Linked DNA regions of Homo sapiens. The protein of the gene in region 1 binds, or shares a complex with, the protein of each later gene. Each region holds a gene or a part of one and is shown in the gene's direction. Other genes may lie near its edges.

Region 1 (3,338 bases):
TGTCAGAGGGTTTTGGGAGGAAATGGCACTGGAACTAGGTGTTCCCAGGCAGATAAAATGGAGGTAAGGGCATTTCAGGAAATGACAGCATGGGGAAGGTCTGGTCTGTTCAAGAATCATCACAGGAGGTCTGGCTGGAGTGTCAAGGGCCTGGGAGGTGGCACTGGTGGGTGGGGAGCTAGCCAGGTCTTGGAGAGCCTTGCCCAATGTGCCCAAGATCTTTGTCTTTACCCGTTGGTGGGTGGGAGCCAGAAAAGGATTTGAAGCAGCCGAAGAGCCATGATTAGCCTTGCGTTTTAGAGAGATCATTGTGGCGTCAGGGAAGGGGCGAAGCTGGATACAGGGAAAGCATCAGGAGGCTTGTCCAGGTGGGAGGTGAGGATCCCCCAGATTAAGGCTGTCATGAGGGGATGGAGAGGACATGACTGAATTCAAGTGCTGTTTTGGATGTGTTGGTGCAAGAGATGGGCACAGTGATGAGCTGTAAAGCCAGTGAGGTAAACTGATTGGGAGAGAGAGGGGTGGATGAAGCACGGATTATGCCCTCACGAAGGTACCGGTGGTACCGAGGCAGGAACGTTGACAATAAGCATGCGTCCTTTCTGAGAACCTGCCACCGTCTAATAAACTTGGACTGCTGAGTGGGAAGGTGACAGGTGGGAAAGCAGTAGGCCTGTGACTGGCACTGCCTGGGGGCCTGGGTAGTACCCAATGGACATGACAATCACTGTGCTCTTGGCCTTCAGGGACTCGCGGGCCCCGCTGAGGGTACAGAAGAATGTGCGTGACAACTCCAAGGACTCGGAGTACTGGCAGGCCCTGACCACAGTGATCCCTTCCTCCAAGCAGAACCTCTGGGATGCCCTCTACACAGCCTTGGAGAAGTACCAGTAAGTGTGCATGTCATGGAGCAGGAGGGTGCTGGCGGGCAGGTGAGGAACGGTTGTTGGGAGCAGCCGCGTTTGCTGCCTCCCTGTCCCACTGAACCTGGGAGGGAAGAGCTGCCCTTGGCATCTCCTGTGTGGGTGGATCATGTGGGGCAGTTGGCTCTTGGGCCCTGGCCTGCCTGTTCTGTTCCTGCTAACCTGGCTCACCTGGCGGCTGGGTGAAGAGTGTAGCTTCTGGAGTCTCCCTCCACCTGTAGCCAAAGTACAACCACCAAGACCCTGGCCCCTACTTGGCAGAGGATGGAGGATTCAGTGAGCCTCTAACCGATTTTTCTGTCCAAAGCCTTGTCCTGACCCAGAGGGCCAAGCTGCTGCTGGAAAACAGTTCTCTGGAGCAGCAGAACACAGAGCTGCAGGCGCTACTGCAGCAGTATCTGAACTCCAAGGTGGGCGGCGGGGCCTTCCAAGGAGGGGCAGCGGGAGACACGGGTGGGGCAGGGGCACTGGAGCTGGGATTAGGGAACGAGGAGTCCCCTCCCCGTCAGAGGCAAGGGAGCTTTGTGATATGATGTAAAAAATCAAGAGTGGCACCTTGAGACAACTACTGGCCAAAGGAGTAGATCTTGCCTGAAGTCTCCTCCAGGACAGCTCAGGTGTGACAGTGTCTCTTTGATACTGTGGTTTCTGGTGCCAGTGGCCAGCTGGGACTGCTCTGTGTGAAGCAGTGCCACAGCCAGGAGCAGCTCCCCAGCTACAGAGCCTCCAGCTGTGCTCTCTTCTTCCATCCTCACACCCGCTGTGTGAGGTGGACAGGGCGGAAACAATGCTCCTCATTTCACACAAAGGACAATCACAACTTGCAGAGTTTGCAACTCGTCCAGAGCCTGGGCTCTTTCCACCCACCAGCCCCGGTTCCCTGCCTGGGATATGACTGGAGGGTCATCCTCGCATGGGGAAGGAGGCTCTGCTGGGGCAGATATTCCCTGGCCCCCATCTGTGCCCAACCCTGCAATAGTTGTGGACAACTTCCCCATGGCCTGGCAAGAGGAGGAAGGAAAAAGTCCATTGCTGACATTTCCTGCTCTGCGGGTGTGGGCACCTGCAGCTGGGGCTGTAGGCCAGGAAGGTCGTGACGCAGCTGTTAGTTGCACACGTGTGAGGTGACTGAGGCCAGCTCCAAGTCCAGCCACAGGGGCTGCGTGGCCCCAGCACAGTCCCAGGTCCCAGGCCACAGCTGAAAGTGGGATGTTGTAGTGAACCTTGGCCTCATAATGACCCTTGGCCTGTGACAGGACCCAGACATTCTGGACGGTATGGTTCCCGCTTCCACAGATGCTACTGTATACAAGAGGCTGGGGGAGGAAGAGGTGGGGCAGGCTAGATTGGGGATGGCATGGGTGCGTGGAGAGAGGAGAGGGGAAGACTGCAGAGAATGGACGGGCGGGAGATGAAGAACGCTACCAGAGGTCACAGCTGGAGCAGAAGCTGAGCAAGAAGGCTCAGGCGTGTCTCCTGCAGGGAGGCAGTCTGTGGGTGTTCAGCATCTCTCAGCTTTGGAGAGGAGATGCGTGCAGGGCTTTGGAGGCCCATGGGAGAGCCAGCGTGGCTCGCAAGGGTGGCAAAGAAGGAGGGCCCTGGGAAAAATGTAACGACTTTCACCCTTTCTTTTCCAGATCAACTCTGAACTGCAAGTTCCTCCCACTCAGGTGTTGCGGGTACCCACAAAATGAGCTGGACCGCCAAAGGCTGATGTGTTAGGGCTGGCCTGATGCTGGTGTCTGTGCCGGAGCCAGCTCATATCACCCACTGGGCCGCACCTGGGCCTGCTCTCTGGATTTTCCAGGGCTGTCTTTATAGCCTGTCGAAATAAGGAGCCAGAGGAGTTACCTGTGTCCTGCATTATGATTAAAGCCTTTTAAAGTTGTGGCTGAATCTCTTTAAAGAGGTCAGGTCTAGCAAGACCAGGCCCTTGCCCCTACCTCTGTGTCATGAGGGGACTTTGCCCCAGGCTCAGATAGTGGTGTGAGTCAGAGGCCGAGGCCAGTAGCGTGGGGCTCCTTTCTTGCTTTCAGGGGAACTGGTTTCTGTGGGTGGAGGCTAGAGCTTTTGGGCCCTTGTGGGGCCTTAAGCCTTCAGACTGGCCCCAGACCTGAAGGATTCTTTCGGTGCTTTGGGGGCCCCTGGGCCCAGGCTGGTGTGCCCTTTGGGCTATGGTGTAAGACTCCTCCTGTGGGCAGCCTGGGTGGGCAGCCCTGTGCCTGAGGCCTGCCTTGAACCCTGGGCCACCAGAGGCCACTTGAAGGGGAAAGGCCATGGGAGCCCTGCTGGTACTGAATCTGCCAGCCTAGAGAACTGCTGCCTCTGCCCCGCACCTGCGGCTGCTCCTCTCAGCTTGACCAGTGCAGACCTGTCAGCTCAGTGCTTGACTTCTTTTATTTAGAGAAAAATCAC
Region 2 (7,630 bases), on another chromosome or scaffold:
ATCAAAACCATCCTGGCCAACATGGTGAAACCCCATCTCCACTAAAAATACAAAAATTAGCTGGGTGTGGTGGCGTGCACCTGTAGTCCCAACTACTCAGGAGGCTGAGGCAGGGTAATAGCTTGAACCCAGGAAGCCGAGGTTGCTCTGCTGAGATTGCGCCACTGCACTCCAGCCTGGGCAACAGAGCAAGACTCTGTCTCAAAAAAAAAAAACAAAAAACAAAAAACAAAAAAAAAATTTTAACCTAAATGATAATTAAAATGCAAAGTGTCAAAATTTGTGAAGAGCAGCTAAAGTTGTACTTAGAAATTTATATCTTTGAATGTTTACATTAGAAGGAAAAAAAGGTTAAAAAACAGTCATCTAAGTTTCCGCCTAACAATATGAGCAAACTAAATCCACAATAAGTAGAAAAAGGAAATAACAAAGAACAGAAAACAATGAAATAGAAACAAACATTAAAGAAAATTACCAAAGCCAACATGACCAAGTAAGGTTTATCCCAAAAAAGCAACGTTGATTTACTATTGGAAAATGCAATGTAATCTACCACATAACAGTTCATAAAGTGAGAAACTATATGATTATCTCAATAATTACCAGAAAAAACAAAAAGCATTTGACAAAATTTGTCCCCATTCAGGATAAAAACCCTCGGGAAACCAGAAACCAAAGGGAGCTTTCTCAATCTGATAAAGGGAACTACAAAAAAATGTAAAGTTAACATCATACTTAATGGTCAGAGACTGGTCCTAAGATCAGGAACAAATGGCAAGGAGGCGTGCTATCTCACTTTTGCTCAGCCTGGAACTGCCTGTCCTCACCAGAGCAATAAGGGGGAAAAAATACATAAATGATACAAAACTACAACAACAAAAATTGTTCCTATTTATAGTTAATACATTGCTAACATCAAAAATTGTAAGGGAGGAAACCCTAGTAGAATAAATAAGTTTAGCTAGGTCTCAGAAGACAAGGTTAATATACAAAAATTATTTCTACCTACTAGCAGTGTATTTTTACATACTAGCAGCAAACAACTGGAAAACTTTAACCATAATTCCACTGACAATGGCATCAAAAAATAAAAGACTTAGGAAAACATTTAACAAAAAACATGCAAGATCTGGCTGGGCACGGCGGCTCATGCCTGTAATCCTGGCACTTTGGGAGGTCGAGGCAGGAGGATCGCCTAAGGCCAGGAGTTCAAAACCCACCTGGACTCTGTCTCAACAAAAAATAAAAAATTAGCCAAGTGTAGTGGCGCATACTTGGGAGTCCCAGCTACTTGGGAGATTAAGGCAGAAGGATCATTTGAGCCCAGGAGTTCAAGCCTGCTGTGAGCTATGATTCTGCCACTGCACTCCAGCCTGAGTGACAGAGCAAGACTGTCTCAAAACAAAACAAAAAAAAAAAAGAGAGAGAAAAGAAAACAGAAGAAAAAATGCAAGATCTATACATTTTTGCTGAGAAAAATTATGCATCACCTCAATAAATGGAGAAACATACATTATGTTCATGGATTGAAAGACTTGATACTGTTAGATGTCAATTATCTCCAAATCATCTATAGAGTAAATGCAATCCCAATCATAAACCCATCAGGCTTTTTTGAAGAAACTGAGAAGCTGACTCTAAAATTTATATGGATCTGTCTTTGAGCCTCCCCCTGCCAAAAAATAAATAAATTTATATGGAAATATAAAAGCCTTAAAATAGCCAAAATCATTTTGAAAAGGAAGAACAAAGCAGGAATGCTTACAATAACAATACTGTCTGATTTCAATATTTATTACAGAGGTACATAATCCAGGCAACTGAATACCCATATGGGGCAAAAAAAAAAAAAAAGGATATTGATCCCCTATCTCACATCATATATAAAAATTAATTTCAGATGAATCATAATCCTAAAAGTGAAGGCTTCTAGAACACAGGAGAATATTTTTATGACCTAGGGGGTATTTAAAGATTTCTTAGAAAGGACATCTGTTGGTGAGGATATGCAGCAACCATAACTAATATTTTGTTGATGGGGGTGTAAAATGGTAGAGTATTTTGGAGAAAGGGTTAGTATTTTTTATAAACATTCACCTACCCTTGACCCAGTAATTTCACCCCTAGGTATTTATCCAAGAACAATGAAAACATATATCCACAAAAATTACTGTACAAGAATATTGACAGCAGCTTTATTTATAATAGCTAAAATCTGGAAGAAACCAAAATACCCATCTTTGAACAAGATAACGGAAAAACAAATTGTGATATAAGTATTCAATGGAATACTCAGCAATTCAAAGGAATAAATTACTATCACATACAACACGAATCTCACAGACATAATGCTGAGCAGATGCCAAATACAGAGGAGTACATACCATATAATTCCATTCAATACACGAAGCTCTAGAATTGGCCAAACTAATCTAGTATTTAAAAAAAAAACAATTAGAAAACTAGTTGCCTGGGGTGGGCAGGAGACTGGCACAGGACAGGAGGGAACGTCTGGAGATGTGGGAACGTTCTATGTTGTGATGGGTTGTATGCTTTATGTGGATGTGCATGGATACATTTGTGGCATTTCAATATATGTAAATTTTACCAAAAAACTTCAAAAGAACAGTAACTCAAGTAGGGGGCTGCGGAATGGCTGAAAGTATATGAAACAAGAATGGCGGAACCTTAAAGCTAGGTGTTAAAGCTAGGTGATGGGTCCATGCGGGTTCATTAAATTATTCTGATGTTGTTTGTACCGGCGTAATAAAAGGTAAAAACAAAACTTACAGGCTTTAGTTGAGAACCAGTTAAAAAGTAAAACTGTTTTGTAGCTCCCCAACACCACCAAAACCAAAAAAGTTATGTAATTTCCTGTAGCATTGAACAGAGGTATAGTCATTAGCGTAACTACAGTGAACACTGTAGCTCCTGGCTATACTCCGTGTCCAGGTTAAAACAAGGAGAATAGTGAGGACGACAGGGTATTTATATACTCTATGAGGAACTAGCGAAACGTATTAGGGACCAGGACTCTTTCTCTTATTTTAATCCAAATTAAAAGAGAGAAGTGCAGGGTTTTGTGGGAAATTTTTTTTAAAGAATTCAGCGAAAATGCAGCATGATAAAAGCTGCAAAAAAGCTATAAACTCCGAAGTTAATATTTTGGCTCACTTGGTTATGAAGAGTATGCATGTAACATTTTGGGAAATTACCATAAAAATGAGTGTCTTTAGATTTCTGGGCTGAATTGAACATGTGTAGGTGTATCAGCATGCAGCCCTGCCCCAGGTACTCTCCCTTTCTCAAAGAATATGGATTATCGTGGACCCACCTCTGACCTAAATACTGTGAAGGAATCAAAGTATGAAACACAAACCTTATCCCACGGAACCTTATAATCTAACTGCAAAGGCAAGATACGCCTAAAAAATAAGCCATTATCCCATAGCAGTACTTGGTTAAATGCCAGGAGGGAGTACAGACACGATGTACTTTTTAATGAAAAGAATATTGCGCTGTGGTGGTTTCAGCAGGCTGCCTTGAGGTTAGGGAATTTGAAATGAGACAAAGAATTTAAGCAGAGAGAAAAATGGGATGGGAGGCGGGCAGGCACTTCCAGAGCAGAGGAACCGGGTAAAGCAAACAAAGTGACGACATAACGTGAAAAGAAACCTGAATTTTGTCTCCAGTGAGCCCCCAACGTCCCACCAACGCCTCTATCTGGCTCTCCGTTCAATGTCTTCCCGAAACTTCAGGTCAGCGGTTCCTAAAGTGGTCCCCGGACAAGCATATCTCACCAACCAGCTGGGAACGTAAACTGTCAACTCTGGGGACTCATCCCAGACCTACTGAGTCACTAAGTGGGGGACTGAGGGCGGCAATCCGTGTTGTACCATGTGCGTCGGGTGACTGTGATGCACGCTCAAGTTTGAAAACCACTCCTCGAGGGCTACTGCTAAGCACAACCCTCCGCACAGAAGTGATACTGTTCTGAGCGCCTAACAGCCAACTTGCAGGGTGTAGGGAGCTGAGAGCGGGTCCCAGGCCTGTAAGAGTCAGGCTCTGCCCCAATTTCGCTTTCTCATCCAGGACACCTTCTCCCAGTCACTATCTCCTACGCCTGCTCCTTCTGGGTGACTTTACCCTGAGAGGGCCCGCTCCCGCCCATGTCGCCCTACCTCAGTGTCAGAGGGGACGTGGTGCCGGCAGGGAGGGGAACTGCCCAAGGAGACGGGAGTAGATGTGGCGCTGGCCCGGAGCCCGCCCAACAGGAGTAAAACGCTTCGGACCCACACAGACCCGCTCCAGCGCCACCGGCTCCGGCCCGGGCCTGAGCCCGAGTAACCCACTCCTCCGCCCCATTCGGCCGCCATCTTCGGGCCGAGCGTCGTTACCATGGAGTGCGTGACGCCTCTGCGCCCGCGCCGGCCCCGCCCCTCGCCGCTGGGGGTAGACGGAGGGCCCAGCCGGCGGAAAGGCGCTTTCCGATTGGACAGCGTCACCCGCTAGAAGTTCGCCGCAGAAGATGAGGGCGGCGATCACGTCCATCGCGTCTCGTGGCGCGAAGCCGGCCAATAAATGCTGTTTGGAGGCCCACGTGAGTGGGGCTGTGGGAGGAAGAAAGGCTAGCGGGCGTTGGCCGTATGTGGGTGTCTTGAGGCAGTTTTTCAGTTCTTTCATTTACCAAAGTGACATGCACCTACTAGGTGCCAGGTGTTTAGACGTACATACAACCCTCTGCAAAATCTTTCAGTGTAGTCCTCTGTATGAAAAGGTGAGTGGAATACTTTCATTTACTTATCCTGAGTCACCAACTTTAGGCCCATTACTTAACTAACGCCATTTCCTATAAAAATCTATGATACACCGTTTACTGTTTTACTCAACTCCATCTTTTAGTTTCCAGCCAAGAATTGCCACTGCACCTGAGATAAGGGGGATCCTGGCCATTAAGGAAACCTTGCCTTCGAAACTGAGCCGTGAGGAACTATACAAAATGGGAAATTGGGACAAATCCCAGTGGCTCATGACACTAAGAAGTAAAATTACGAACTCACTGAGCTGGAAGTCATTCAACGGGAATTGAATAGGTAAGCTACTATACTGGGAAATGAAGGAGTAGGAAAGAAGGAAAACCTCAAGTTACAAACTATGGGTGGAGATTCAGCTACGAGGATGGGGTGGTGTTTTAAGTATTACCATTTTACAAGTAAATACTCACTAAATGTGTGTATCATCCCACAACTAGTGGAAGGTGGGATTCCAAACCACATTTGTAACTTAGGAAACGTGCCCTTTCCACTACAATACCACAAATAAATTGCTATTGTGAATAAAGAATGGAACCAGTCATCCTAAGCTCCTGGCTGTAACAATAGTGTTATGCTGAGGAAAGGCTGTTTCTTTTTTTTTTGAGACGGAGTTTCACTCGTCGCCCAGGCTGGAGTGCAGTGACACAATCTCGGCTCAATGCAACCTCTGCCTCCCGGGATCAAGCTATTCCCCTGCCTCAGCCTCCCGAGTAGCCGGGATTACAGGCACCCGCCACCACGCCCGGCCAATTTTTATGTTTTTAGTAGAGACGTAGTTTCACCACGTTGGCCAGGCTGGTCTCAACCTCATGACCTCAGGTGATCCGCCCGCCTCCGCCTCCCAAAGTGTTGGGATTACAGGCGTGAGCCACCGCGCCCAGCCAGGAGGCAAAGCTGTTTCAATGGTGTAGTGGACAAGTTACCAGCCACGCAAGCCCTTTCCTGTAAACCACAGGACTCCTCCTTTGGCAACGGTGACTTGAGTACTTTTGACTTAATTTCCATATGGGAGGAGAAAAACATAAAAACATACATTTATTATTTACAAATGCTGCATCATCTCAGTAAGGAAGAGCATGTATTTGCTTTTGAGTCTCATTTGCCATTGCACATGTAAGTTACTCGAGTTAAAGTCTCAACCGTTTGTTTTCCCCCGCTTTGCTCAGATGCCTACCACTTACCGTGTGTCTGTTCCACTCAGAATACCATCCACTTCTCCATATGCCTAACCCAGACCTGAAATACCCATCTGTCTTCATGGATATGTCCACAGGTTAACATCTTACAGCTTCCTCAAATTCAACTTTAGCTCCTCCCACAAAACCATCTCCTGATTCCCCAACTTTGTAAATGCACCATTATCCATCCAGCCCCCAAAGCCAGAAACATGTTAGAATTCTCCATTTGAGACTGAAAAGCCCACCTAATTTTCCCTTGTTTATGCTGGGATGCCATTGGGATTTGAAATAATCTGAGCTGGTGGCTCATATCTGTAATCCCAGTACTTTAGGAGAACAAGGCAGGGGGATCACTTGAGGCCAGGAATCGAGACCAGCCTGGGACCCCGAAAAAACATTTTAATTGGCTGGACGTGCCTGGCATGCACCAGATTCTCTGGAGGTTGTGGGCAGGGGATTGTCTGAGCCTAGAAGTTCAAAGGTGCAGTGAGCTATGATCACACCACTGCACTACAGGCTGGGCAACAGAAACCCTGTCTCAAATGAGTAAATTTTAAAATTTCCTGTGAATCAAGTTCTTCAGTGACGTTGTATTACACTCAAGAACAATCTTAAGCCTAAGATCCTCAGTTCAGTACAGGAGACCTCTCATGTGGCATTTTAGTTTTCTGGACTTTCCAGTCAGCCACTTGTGTTCCTAAAATCTTCCTGCCATTTCCTCTTTGAGATGCCGCCCTATTTCTTCCTCTACACTTTACGGTTTTATGTTACGCAGCCAGTATACCTACATGCCTCTATCCCTGAATACCCCGAGTACTACTGATCACATCTACTTAACTGGCACAATGAACACAGTAGGTACTTTTAGCTTATGTTGGCCTTTTGGAGTGGGTGTCCAAGATCAGCACTTCCTCGCGCTGACTGCGTAATTCCCAAGTTCAATTTCATTAGCATTCTAATATACAACTTCCAACTTCCGGCCTTGAAGTACTGCTCACTTCTGGTGAATACAGCATCAGTGCACTTTGTTTGCCTTAAAACCACAATCCTGGGAGGCTGAGACAGAATGGCGTGAACCCGGGAGGCGGAGCGTGCAGTGAGCCAAGATTGCGCCACTGCACTCCAGCCTAGACGACAGAGCAAGACTGTCTCAAAAAAAAAAAAAAAAAAACCACCACAATCCTAATAAATGAGCCTGGCAGAGTACTAACACAAGCCCATGTCCACGAAGCACGGGACTCCAACAATGGCAGCTTTGGCTTGCATACCACCATTGGACTGACCAAACCTTTCTTAGAACTGCCAGTGTGACAGAGGGACCTCTGGGGGAGGGCGTCTTGCTTTCTCTTGGGTCAGTATATCTCACTACCCTCTTTGTAGGTTAGCAGATTTGTAACAGGATGTTACTGGAGGAAGGGGAAGTGGGAAAGCTGGACAGTATTCCCACTCTTTTCCCTTACTACAAAAACTTTCCTTCTCAGTCCTGTCTCCAGGAGATGGAAGACCAAATAACACAACAGCCAGTGTGCTTTTCCTACCCAATCCTTTCTTTCACCCTCTTATCCTAATACATTTCCAGCATGTTAATTCTTTTGCAGCATAGACAAGAGAACCCATACACGCTGCAAAACTGCAAAA
Region 3 (7,046 bases), on another chromosome or scaffold:
CAGTAGGGCCTCCACCATCAGGGCAGGGAGCGCTCCACGCGCACCTACCCTCCCCGATGAGCGTGCGCCTGGGCCACTCCCGGACCAGCCACCCTTGCAGCTCTGGAGTCCCCGGCAGGCCGCGCCCGTGCATGCCCCACATCCCCAAGACCCATCTCAGCCCCTCGCCCCTGGCAGGATCCCTGCCCGCGAGTCTACGGCCCTCGCCCCCCGGGACTCGCGGCTGGGCGAACAAAGCGGACGCGCTTGCAAGCGGCCAGCGTCGCCCTCACGCCCCACCGACAGGGACCCCAAACTCCAGCCCCGGAACCCCCCTCCCCCGCTCCCCGGGTCACCGGCTGGCTTGGCTGGGAGGGGGCTCAGGACGAAACTCCGGGCCACCCACCAAGGAGCGTGCCGGGCACGGCTTCCCGGGCCGGGAGCGCAGAGAACAAGGGGGCGGAGACTCGGTCCGTGTGCCCCCAGCCCCGCGCGGGGACCGCGCCCGGGAGGTGCCCCTGGCCCGCCGGACGACCCCGAGCTGCCAAAGGGGTCTTCGCGACTCCCGGGAGCGGCGAAGGGTGAGCCCTGGGGGGAGGGGCTGCGGCTCGCTGCGGGGAAGCGCTGCGCGGGGGTCTCGGGGGCTGGGGCTGAACTCACCTCCGGTGCCGGCGCCCTCCGGGGGCTCCATGCGGCCGGTGCGGTCTGGGAGGGGCACGGGCGACGGCGGCGTCGCCTGGCCCGGGCGCCCCAACAGCTGCGGCAGCGACTCGGCCCCGGCTCCGGGCGCAGCGCATCGGGGCAGCAACCGGGGGGCCGCGGCGGCAGGGAGGAGCCCGCGGGGCGGGGCGGGGCGCGCAGCTGCTCCCGGGCCCCGGCCCCCTCCCGGCGCCCCCCCAGCCGCAGGACAGGTGCGGCCCCGCCCCGGCCCGCGCGCGCCCCCTGCTGGCCCCTGGCCCAGCGGACCCCTCCCCCGCCGACCCTTCCCTCGCGGGCCGCGCCCCGCCGCGGACACCACCGGGACCTGGCTGCGCCCTCCCGACCCCGGCCGGGCGTCCGGGGCTCCTGCGCACTCACTTGGCGGCCGCGCCCGCTGGCGTCCTCTTGTTCTCTTCCAGGTACTTGCGTGTGGGGCGCCGACTGTGTGCGGGCGCCCCTCGGGGCTGGCGAGGGGCACAGGAGGGGCCTGACTCGCGCTGGGTAATGACAGACTCACAGAGCGCCCTGGATGGCGCGAATTAACGCGGGGGGCGGGTGGGGGCGAGGGCGTGTGCTTGGGAGGCTGGAAGGGGCGGGATGGGGGATGGGAGGTAAGGAGAGGGCGGCGGGCCCGGGCTGCAGAGAGCGCCAAGGCAGTTTCGATGAAACTGACCCCCATGTCCCTATCGCCCAGATTCAGCGATTGCCAGCTCCTGGCCTGGGCCACTGCTTCTCTGTCCTCATTCACTTCCCTCCACTGCTGGGTCATTTTGAAGCAAATTATATACACATTAGATCATTGCATTTGTAAGTACTTCAATATTTATCTCTCAAAGAAAGTCCGTTTGCAGGAGCATTGACTCATGCCTGTAATCCCAGCCCTTTGGGAGGCTGAGGTGGGAGCACAGCTTGAGCTCAGGAGTCCAAGGCTGCCGTGAGCTATGATTGTATGTCTCAAAAAAAAAAAAGAAAAGAAAAGAAAAGAAAAAGTCTAGTCTTCATAAACACTCTTGTTAACCCAGCATCCAGGCCTTCACTGAGTTGATGCCGTGGCCTGAGGCGGTTTACCTGGTGGATAGTGGGTGGCAGGAAGCATCAGACATCAGACAGAGGGCAGTCGGTTTGTTTGTATTAACATTTGCTCTGGGATTTTGCAGGAAACTCAGATGCCATTTATCTGGGTTTCTGAGCTGCACAGCTTGACACTGAATGAAAGTATCTTAAGCCACATATGTGAAGAAAAGGCTCTTTTCTAAAAATCTGAACTCGAATTCAATATGAAAAGAACAGGTCGCAGTGGGCCCTGTCGGGATCCCAGGGAGCCGCAATTCAGGGCTCCCTGAATGATTCATCTCTGCAGCCCACACCGACAGACCAGGATTGCTCTTAGCTTGTGAAAAATGAGTACCCTGTCTAGGCTATCCTGAGCTAACCCTCCTATTCTTGCCCTTTTTGCTGAAAGGAATTATTGTTAATACAGCTATTTAATTCAGGACACTCATCCAGACTTCTGAAGCAAAAAGCCAATCAGCATGAAGCTGCTAGCATATTGGTTTTGTGAAGTAAGTGTTAAATTATAATAATTACCCCCACTGTGCTCTCCAGCGTCACTGTCTGACCACCCTGTCCCAGGGGGAGGAGGCCCCTCTCAGGCCAAGGGAGTCTGGCACAGTGATGCTGGCTCCTGGTTGCCCAGGCACAGTGACCAGCCAGACTTCACAGAGGCCTCAGGGCTTACTATAAATAAATCACTGCTTTGTGCAAGCTGAGCCAATGCAGTTCTTCCAACTGGCTGCTCCTCTCCAAGAACAATCAGGACTTAGGTGGGCAAACAGGAAGTCTCTCATCACAGTGGTTCTCAGATTCCCACCACTGTGTGGGTGCCTGAGGCCTGAGCAAACCCAGCTCATGTGGCAACTTCCTCCCCCAGCTGGACAGGAAGACCTAGGTCCACCAGGCCTTCTTTCATTTCTCACACTTTGCCCCCAGCACAACTTTCTACGAGCATGGATTCTGTACTCTTCATCCCCAGACACATGGGAGAACAAGATCTGCTACAAGACCTTTTCTTTTTTTTTTTGAGACAGGGTCTCAGGTCTCATTCTGTTACCTAGGCTGGAGTGAAGTGGTGTGATCTTGGCTCACTGCAACCTCCACCTCCAGGGCTCAAACGATTCTCCCACCTCAACCTCCCAAGTAGATGACCACTTTTTAAGAAGATGTTAAAGATGAGAGCTTAGGGCTGGGCGTGGGGCTCACGTGCTCCCAGCACTTTGGGAGGCCGAGGCAGGAGGATCACTTGAGGCCAGGAGTTTGAGACCACTCTGGGCAATAAAGCAAGACCCCGTCTCTATTAAAAACTTAAAAAAAAAAGCTGGGTATGGTGTCTCACACCTGTAGTCCTGGCTTCTCAGGAGGCTGAGGTGGGAGGATTGCTTGAGCCCAGGAGGTCGAGGCTGCAGTGAGTTGTGATCACAGCCTAGGCGACAGAAGGAGACCCTGTCTCCAAAAAAAAAAAAAAAAAAAAGCACCTGTTTATGACAAACTCAGCTTTCTGGGTGACATAGATGGTTGTATGTAGGTAACAGGGTGGTTTCACGGATGGCAGATTCATTTTAGAAATTGTAAAATGGCTAGCAGTTTTCAGAACAAGAGATTAGTTAGAAAAGGAAAGTGGCAGCTGTTTGTTTTCTGCAGGGCCTGTCGGGAAGCCTCTGGTTTCTTTTCATCCGTGAGGAGTGGGGAGGAGGCCTCTTCAGGAAGAGCAGTTTATTTTTGTGAAAGGAATACTTACTGATTTCAAACATTTGGAACTAAACTGGAACGTATTTTTCTTTCCGATTTCTGCGTTTTTGAGGTGTGTGTAAACCCACCAGCGCAGCAGCTGGGAGGGCCCTTCAAAGGTGGGCGGGTGGGGTGAGTGAGGCCCAGGGGATAGAGTGTTTGCCCAGATTTGAATCTCATTTGGGGAAAGTTTCAGAGGCTTGGGTGGCTGATTGATCATTCCTTCAATGGTCCTTCATCAGCACGTCTTTACTGAGCACGTGCTGTGTGCTGTTCTAGGCGCTGAAGGATAGAAGTGAAGGGTTCCCCCCTCGTGGAGCTTAGGTTCCAGCAATAAGCAAAACATGCCCTGCAGCGAAAGGCTTCTGGGCTGCCGGCGACATTTTCCCAACGTTCACAACCGGGTTCCTTCCGGACGCCCGTCTCTAGGGACGCACTCCCGCCTTTGGCAGGGCCGCTGCCCGGCGGAGTCTCGCGAGGATCTTGTGACTTATCGCGGCATCGCCCAGCGGTTGCCGGGAAACGGCGTGGCTTCCGGGGGCGGGCGCCCTGGTCCCGGAGTCGCCGCTGGGCCTGTCCGCTGGCGTCATGGTGAGCAGGGGCGGGAGCGGGGCTGGGGTCCTCGGCAGGGGCCCGGAGACCTCGGGGCAGGGAGGCCTCGGTACACGGAGACCCTGGGAATGGGAGGCCTGGAGCGCTGGGTTTCTGGAATTGAGAGCTCGGTGCTCTTGTGGGGGTCTCCGTGGGGCAAACTCAGGATGCTCCCGGCCCCGGGGCCTGGCAGCACTCGGGACTGAGACCTGGGCTGTCCAGAGCCCTGTGCTCACAGGGGTGGTCATAGAACGCCCAGGGCCCGGGGTCGGCGGCGCACGGTCCCCAGAAGAGTGAACATGCGTCAAGGGGACTCTCATCCTGGAATGGCAGACTCGGTCTGTTGGATCCCTGGGACCTAGGGTTTCAGCTCACGAGGCTTTGCAGAGCACCAGGGTCCCCATGGAATAGAGCCGGAGGCAGGAATTACCCTAAGACCTTTGGTCTCCCGGATGGAGAGCCTGGGGCACACCAGAGTGGCTAGAGATCCCTCTACACCAAGGAGGCCCGGACAGGTCCAGTGCCCTTGGAGTGCCCAGGGCACAACCTTGGGATACAGGAACCACTGTTCCCTTGGAAAGCCTGGCAGGAGTCAGGCCCAGACCGAGAAGAGGAAGGCGGAGCTCGTGGCCTCATCAGCTCCATGTCTGTCTTTCTCTTGTAAAGGGCTCTCCCTTTGTGGTACAGGAATTGTCAGTAACTCAATTTCTGGGCAGGTGTGGCAGGGTGGGTTTCAGCTGGTGGGGGGAGGAAAGCTCTGGGAGCCCCACCAAGTCCCTGCAGCTGGCTGTGAAGGTCCCAAATGCTAAGTAATGCTGAACCTTCCTCCACTGCCTTCAGGGCTTTGTGATGAGGTAGCCTTCTTGGAGTGGAGGGATTAAAAAGAGAGCAGTACATTACGAATTAAATTTAAGTAGATGGGTTTTCTGACCCAGGAAGGGTCTTCTGAAAACCGACTATGAAAGAAACTACCAAACTAGGCCAGGAGTCTGGGCGCGGTGGCTCACGCCTGTAATCCCATCACTTTGGGAGGCCGAGGCAGGCGGATCATGAGGTCAGGAGATCCAGACCATCCTGGCCAACATGGTGAAAATCCATATCTATTAAACATACAAAAATTAGCTGGGTGTGGTGGCGTGTGCCTGTAGTTCCAGCTACTCGGGAGGCTGAGGCAGGAGAATCACTTGGACCTGGGAGGCGGAGGTTGCAGCGAGCCGAGATCGCACCACCGCACTCCAGCCTGGCAACACGTCTCTTAAAAAAAAAAAAAAAAAGCAGGGTGTAGTGGCTGACGCCTGTAAACCCAGCACTTTAGGAGTCCAAGGTGGGTGGATCACTTGAGGCCAGGAGTTGGAGACCAGCCTGGCCAACATGGTGAAACCCTGTCTTTACTAAAAATACACACACACACACACTCACACACACACACACACAAAATTAGCCGGGTGTGGTGGTACGCACCTATAGTCCCAGCTACTTGGGAGGCTGAGGCAGGAGAATTTCTTGAACCTGGAAGGTAGAGGTTGTGTAGTGGGATTTTTAAGGAATTAGAGAGACCGATGGGGTTCAGGAGGATATTTATTAATTATTTAGGTGCACCGGCCCAGTCAGATTAAAATCCAAAGGACTGAGCCCTGAACAAAGAGTTAAGTTACCTTTTAAGCTTTTCGTGGGGCAGAGGGAGATCTGTGCAGGGGGAAGCATGCTTCAGATGTGAGAAATAAAGGCAGTTGTTCAGTTGAAACATGCATTACATCATTTCTTACTTTTTAAGGAAAAACATGTTTTGCGACTTGAGTTTATCTGCCTAGTGACCTTGCAGCCGCACAGCTACAGAATCAGGGTCTTCACAATGCCTGGGAAGGGAGGAGAGACAAGGCTCACTAGCCGCAGAAAAACAGGCAGTTAATTTTTAAAGGACTCCAGCTCTTTCTCTTTTTCAGGGGGAGTTGGGTTTTCTTATATATAACTGAGTTTCTGCTTACACACTTTTTAATTTCTTTTAATTCCTGTTCCAGTTGCAGTGAGCCAGGATTGCACCACTGCACTCCAGCCTGGGTGACAGAGCAAGACTCCATCTCAAAAAAAACAAAAACAAAAACAAAAAACAAAAAAATGCAACAGCAAACACAACAGCAAACACTAAACACAACCAAACTACTTCTGTTTCTGTTAGGTTGTGGGAATATGGGCCTTGGTCTGTTGGATCCTTGGACCAAGGAATATGGGTGATATTTCTGTTTTCTTCTCATCAGTGTTTTCTAAAATTTCCACATAATATTTTCTCTCTCTCTTTTTTTTTTTTTTTTTGAGGTAGAGTCTTACCCTGTCACCCAGGCTGGAGTGCAGTGGCATGATCTTGGCTCACTGCAACCTCTGCCACCTGGGTTCAAGCGATTCTCCTGCCTCGGCCTCCCGAGTACCTGGGACTACAGGTGCCCGCCACCACGCCTGGCTAATTTTTTTGTATTTTTAGTAGAGACAGGGTTTCACCATGTTGGCCAGGCTGGTCTTGAACTGCTGACCTCAAGTGATCCGCCCGCCTCAGCCTCCCAAAGTGCTGGGATGACAGGTGTGAGCCACTGTGCCTGGCTCCACCTAATGTTTTCATTCAGGACTAAATGAAACATAAATGAAGATAAATGGGCCAGTCGCGGTGGCTCACGCCTGTAATCCCAGCACTTTGGGAGGCTTAGGTGGGCAGATCACGGGTCAGGAGTTCGAGTACAGCCTGGCCAACATAGTGAAACCCCGTCTCTACTAAAAATACAAAAAATTAGCCGGACGTGGTGGTGGGCACCTGTAATCCCAGCTACTCAGGAGGCTGAGGCAGGAGAATGGCTTGAATCCGGGAGGCGGAGGTTGCAGTGAGCTGAGATCGCACCATTGCACTCCAGCCTGGGCAACAGAGCAAGACTCTGTCTCAAAAAAAAAAAAAAAAAAAAAAAAGAGAGTTCAAGACCAGCCTGGCCAACATGGTGAAACCTCGTCTC
Region 4 (3,134 bases), on another chromosome or scaffold:
GGCAAAACCCCGTCTCTACTAAAAATATAAAAATTAGCCGGATGTGGTGGCGCACACCTGTAATCCCAGCTACTCGGGAGGCTGAAGCAGGAGAATCGCTTGAACCCAGGAGGCAGAGGTTGCAGTGAGCCGAGATCACGCCATTGCACTCCAGCCTGGGCAACAGAGCAAGACTCTGTCTCAAAAAAATAAATAAAAATAAAAAAGAAGATGTAGGCCTCACACCCCATTTCCTCCTCTCAAGTCCAGCCCTAACTCCCCACCACTGCCATGTCTCTTGTGAGCAAAACATATTCCCTTTTAGTTTAGCTGATTTCTACAATGAAACTAAGGGGAAATGTTTGACTTATTTACTTCTGTATCTTCAAGACCTAGCATCTGGTAGATCCTAAATAACTGTTCACCAAATAAATGAATAAACACTCCTAATAAGCAAAAATATTTTTAAAAACCAGGAAGCCTTTGCTTCTCTTGTCTCTTGCTTACAAAATAATGTTGAAATATCTCAGCATGACACATGAGCTCTTTCACAATTTTGGTCTCAAAGTTTTCATACCTTAAAAATGCCTTCAACCGGGTGCGGTGGCTCACCCCTGTAATCCCAGCACTTTGGGAGGCCAAGGCAAGAGAATTGCTTGAGGCCAGGAGTTTGAGACCAGCCTGGCCAGTATGGTGAAATGCCATCTCTACTAAAATTACAAAAATTAGCTGAGCATGGTGGCGTGTGCCTGTAATCTCAGCTACTTGGGAGGCTGAGTCAGGAGAATCACTTGAACCCAGGAGGCGGAGGCTGCAGTGAGCCGAGATCGCACCACTGCACTCCAGCCTCGGCAACAGAGTAAGATTCCAACTAAAAAAAAAAAAAAAAAGGCCTTCGGTTTAGCTATAGATGGCCAGGAGCTGCTTATCTGCCATTCAGACTCTGGGTTCCTTTCCTAATCTTTGCTTTACCTCAAATTCCAAGTCAATCAATGACTCAATTGTTTTTGTTTTTGCTGTTGTTGTTTTGGGGATTTTTTTGTTTTTTGTTTTTTGTTTTGAGACGGAGTTTCACTCTGGTCGCTCATTCTGGAGTGCAATGGCAAATCTCGGCTCACTGCAACCTCCACCTCCTACGTTCAAGCAATTCTCCTGCCTCAGTCTCCCGAGTAGCTGGGATTACAGGTGTGCGCCACCATGCCTGGCTAATTTTTGTATTTTTAGTAGAGATGGAGATTCACCTATGTTGGCCGGGCTCGTTTCGGACTCCTGACCTCAGGTAATCCGCCCTCCTCGGCCTCCCAAAGTGCTAGGATTACAGGCGTGAGCCACCGCACCCGGCCAATGAATCAATGTTTACTGAGCACCTCCTGTATACTAGCTAGGTGCTTTGTCATCCATTTATCATGTTTAAAGGTCACAGCATGCCCCTGAGGGATGTGTCATTCTCTCTTTACAGATGAAGACACCAGCCAGCCGCGGTGGCTCACACTTGTAATCCCACCACTTTGGGAGGCCGAGGCGGGCGGATCACAAGGTTAAGAGATAGGGACCATCCTGGCCAACATGGTGAAACCCCATCTCTACTAAAAATTCGAAGATTAGCTGGGCATGGTGGCATGTGCCTGTAATCCCAGCTACTCGGGAGGCTGAGGCAGGAGAATTGCTTGAACCCAGGAGGTGGCAGTTGCAGTGAGCTGAGATCGCGCCACTGCACTCCAGCCTGGCGACAGAGTGAGACTCCATCTAAAAAAAAAAAAAAAGATGAAGACACCAAGGCTCAGAAAGAGACATGCATGTGGTCACCTAGGTAGTAATCCGACTTTGGAGCCTTCTATCTCAAGCCCGCCACTCTCTGCTATATACCTCAGTGGAGCTTCAGCTTTTACAGGGACTGCGGGAAATTTGGTGATGCTGGGGGAGTCTGGAACGAGCCCATTTGAGGTCTCCTTTCCAGATACCTTTGGAGAGACTGGTCAAGGATAGAGTGTCACCATCCTGCTCTCTTTCATCCTGCCTGCCCCCAGAGGCATGCCAAAGGGAGGCTGCAGCTGCCCGGGAAGAGGCTGAACAAGCTCTCGGAGAGCGGGACCAGGCCCTGGCTCAGCTTCGGGCCCACATGGCAGACATGGAGGCGAAGTATGAGGAAATCTTACACGTAAGCACCACCCCCTGGATCCCAGCCATCCCAGTACCCAGGACTCCCCCATGCCCACAAACCCCAGCTCGTATGATGACTGACAACCCAGGGTTAAGGAGAAGGAGCGTCTCCAAGGGAGCCCTGCTCTATCCTGAGGGCAGACAGAGGGGATACGACCATGTCTACTGGGCAAGGAAAGCTTATGAACCAACCTGGGGCAGCACTCACTCCTTCCCTCTCTCTCTTTCTGGGGTCTGAAATATTGATGTCTGCAGGACAGTCTGGACAGGCTCTTGGCCAAGCTGAGAGCCATCAAGCAGCAGTGGGATGGGGCAGCACTGAGACTTCACGCCAGGCACAAGGAGCAGCAACGCCAGTTTGGACTCACCCCCCCTGGATCTTTGAGGCCACCAGCCCCTAGTCTCTAGTGTTCTCTGAGGCCCCAGCAATAAAGTGTCTTGATGTAGAACTCAATAGAGCTGTGGGCTCTGGCCGTTTGGCAGAGAGAAGTGGATCTTATTTTTATTTTTATTTTTATTTAGTTTTCTTCTTTTTTTGTTTTTGTTGTTGTTTATTTTTAGGAGTGGCTGTCATACAGACATCTCAGTTCTGGGTTGACCCATTATCCCTGAGATTCAGTGATTGATAGGAAATAAATTTGACCAGGTCTCAACCTCTCTCCTGCAGGAGCCGCATCCCACCCCTTGAGCCTGAGGCCCTTTTGGTCCCTTCACACCACTGCCCCTTACCCCCACCAACACAAACACAGGCAGTCAGATTTATGGCGAATGGCCATTTCTATAACAAATGCAACGGTGACCAAGCACCACCCTCCCGCAATGCTAAGGCACCCACAGAGGGCAGGCATAGCTGGTCTCCAAATTTTTGCATTACACTCAAGGGTCCTGGAGTCATATCTAGAAAAGGTCCAGATGGCTTCAATCCTAGCCAGACCCACAGCCACACCTTCATCCTTGGGACACAGCTCTCTAAAACTCCCATATGACATCCTCTG

Evidence for each region.
Region 2: DRC1 (region 1) and DRC9 share a complex: the UniProt entries of both Homo sapiens proteins name them as parts of the nexin-dynein regulatory complex.
Region 3: DRC1 (region 1) and DRC4 share a complex: the UniProt entries of both Homo sapiens proteins name them as parts of the nexin-dynein regulatory complex.
Region 4: DRC1 (region 1) and DRC12 share a complex: the UniProt entries of both Homo sapiens proteins name them as parts of the nexin-dynein regulatory complex.

What each region holds. Positions count from the first base shown.
Region 1 is NC_000002.12:26,453,901-26,457,238, forward strand, and holds the end of DRC1 (dynein regulatory complex protein 1), read left to right. Parts: intron 1-746; coding exon 747-890; intron 891-1,230; coding exon 1,231-1,333; intron 1,334-2,560; coding exon 2,561-2,617; 3' UTR 2,618-2,811; downstream 2,812-3,338. UniProt on the Homo sapiens protein: Component of the nexin-dynein regulatory complex (N-DRC) a key regulator of ciliary/flagellar motility which maintains the alignment and integrity of the distal axoneme and regulates microtubule sliding in motile axonemes.
Region 2 is NC_000003.12:197,956,992-197,964,621, reverse strand, and holds the start of DRC9 (dynein regulatory complex protein 9), read left to right. Parts: upstream 1-4,630; 5' UTR 4,631-4,777; intron 4,778-4,902; 5' UTR 4,903-5,093; intron 5,094-7,630. Other genes in the region: LMLN (leishmanolysin-like peptidase), read right to left, coding at 4,182-4,400. UniProt on the Homo sapiens protein: Component of the nexin-dynein regulatory complex (N-DRC), a key regulator of ciliary/flagellar motility which maintains the alignment and integrity of the distal axoneme and regulates microtubule sliding in motile axonemes.
Region 3 is NC_000016.10:90,018,672-90,025,717, forward strand, and holds the start of DRC4 (dynein regulatory complex subunit 4), read left to right. Parts: upstream 1-4,008; 5' UTR 4,009-4,050; coding exon 4,051-4,053; intron 4,054-7,046. UniProt on the Homo sapiens protein: Component of the nexin-dynein regulatory complex (N-DRC), a key regulator of ciliary/flagellar motility which maintains the alignment and integrity of the distal axoneme and regulates microtubule sliding in motile axonemes.
Region 4 is NC_000011.10:119,189,713-119,192,846, reverse strand, and holds the end of DRC12 (dynein regulatory complex protein 12), read left to right. Parts: intron 1-2,006; coding exon 2,007-2,137; intron 2,138-2,205; exon of another isoform or gene 2,206-2,280; intron 2,281-2,394; coding exon 2,395-2,547; 3' UTR 2,548-2,593; downstream 2,594-3,134. UniProt on the Homo sapiens protein: Component of the nexin-dynein regulatory complex (N-DRC), a key regulator of ciliary/flagellar motility which maintains the alignment and integrity of the distal axoneme and regulates microtubule sliding in motile axonemes.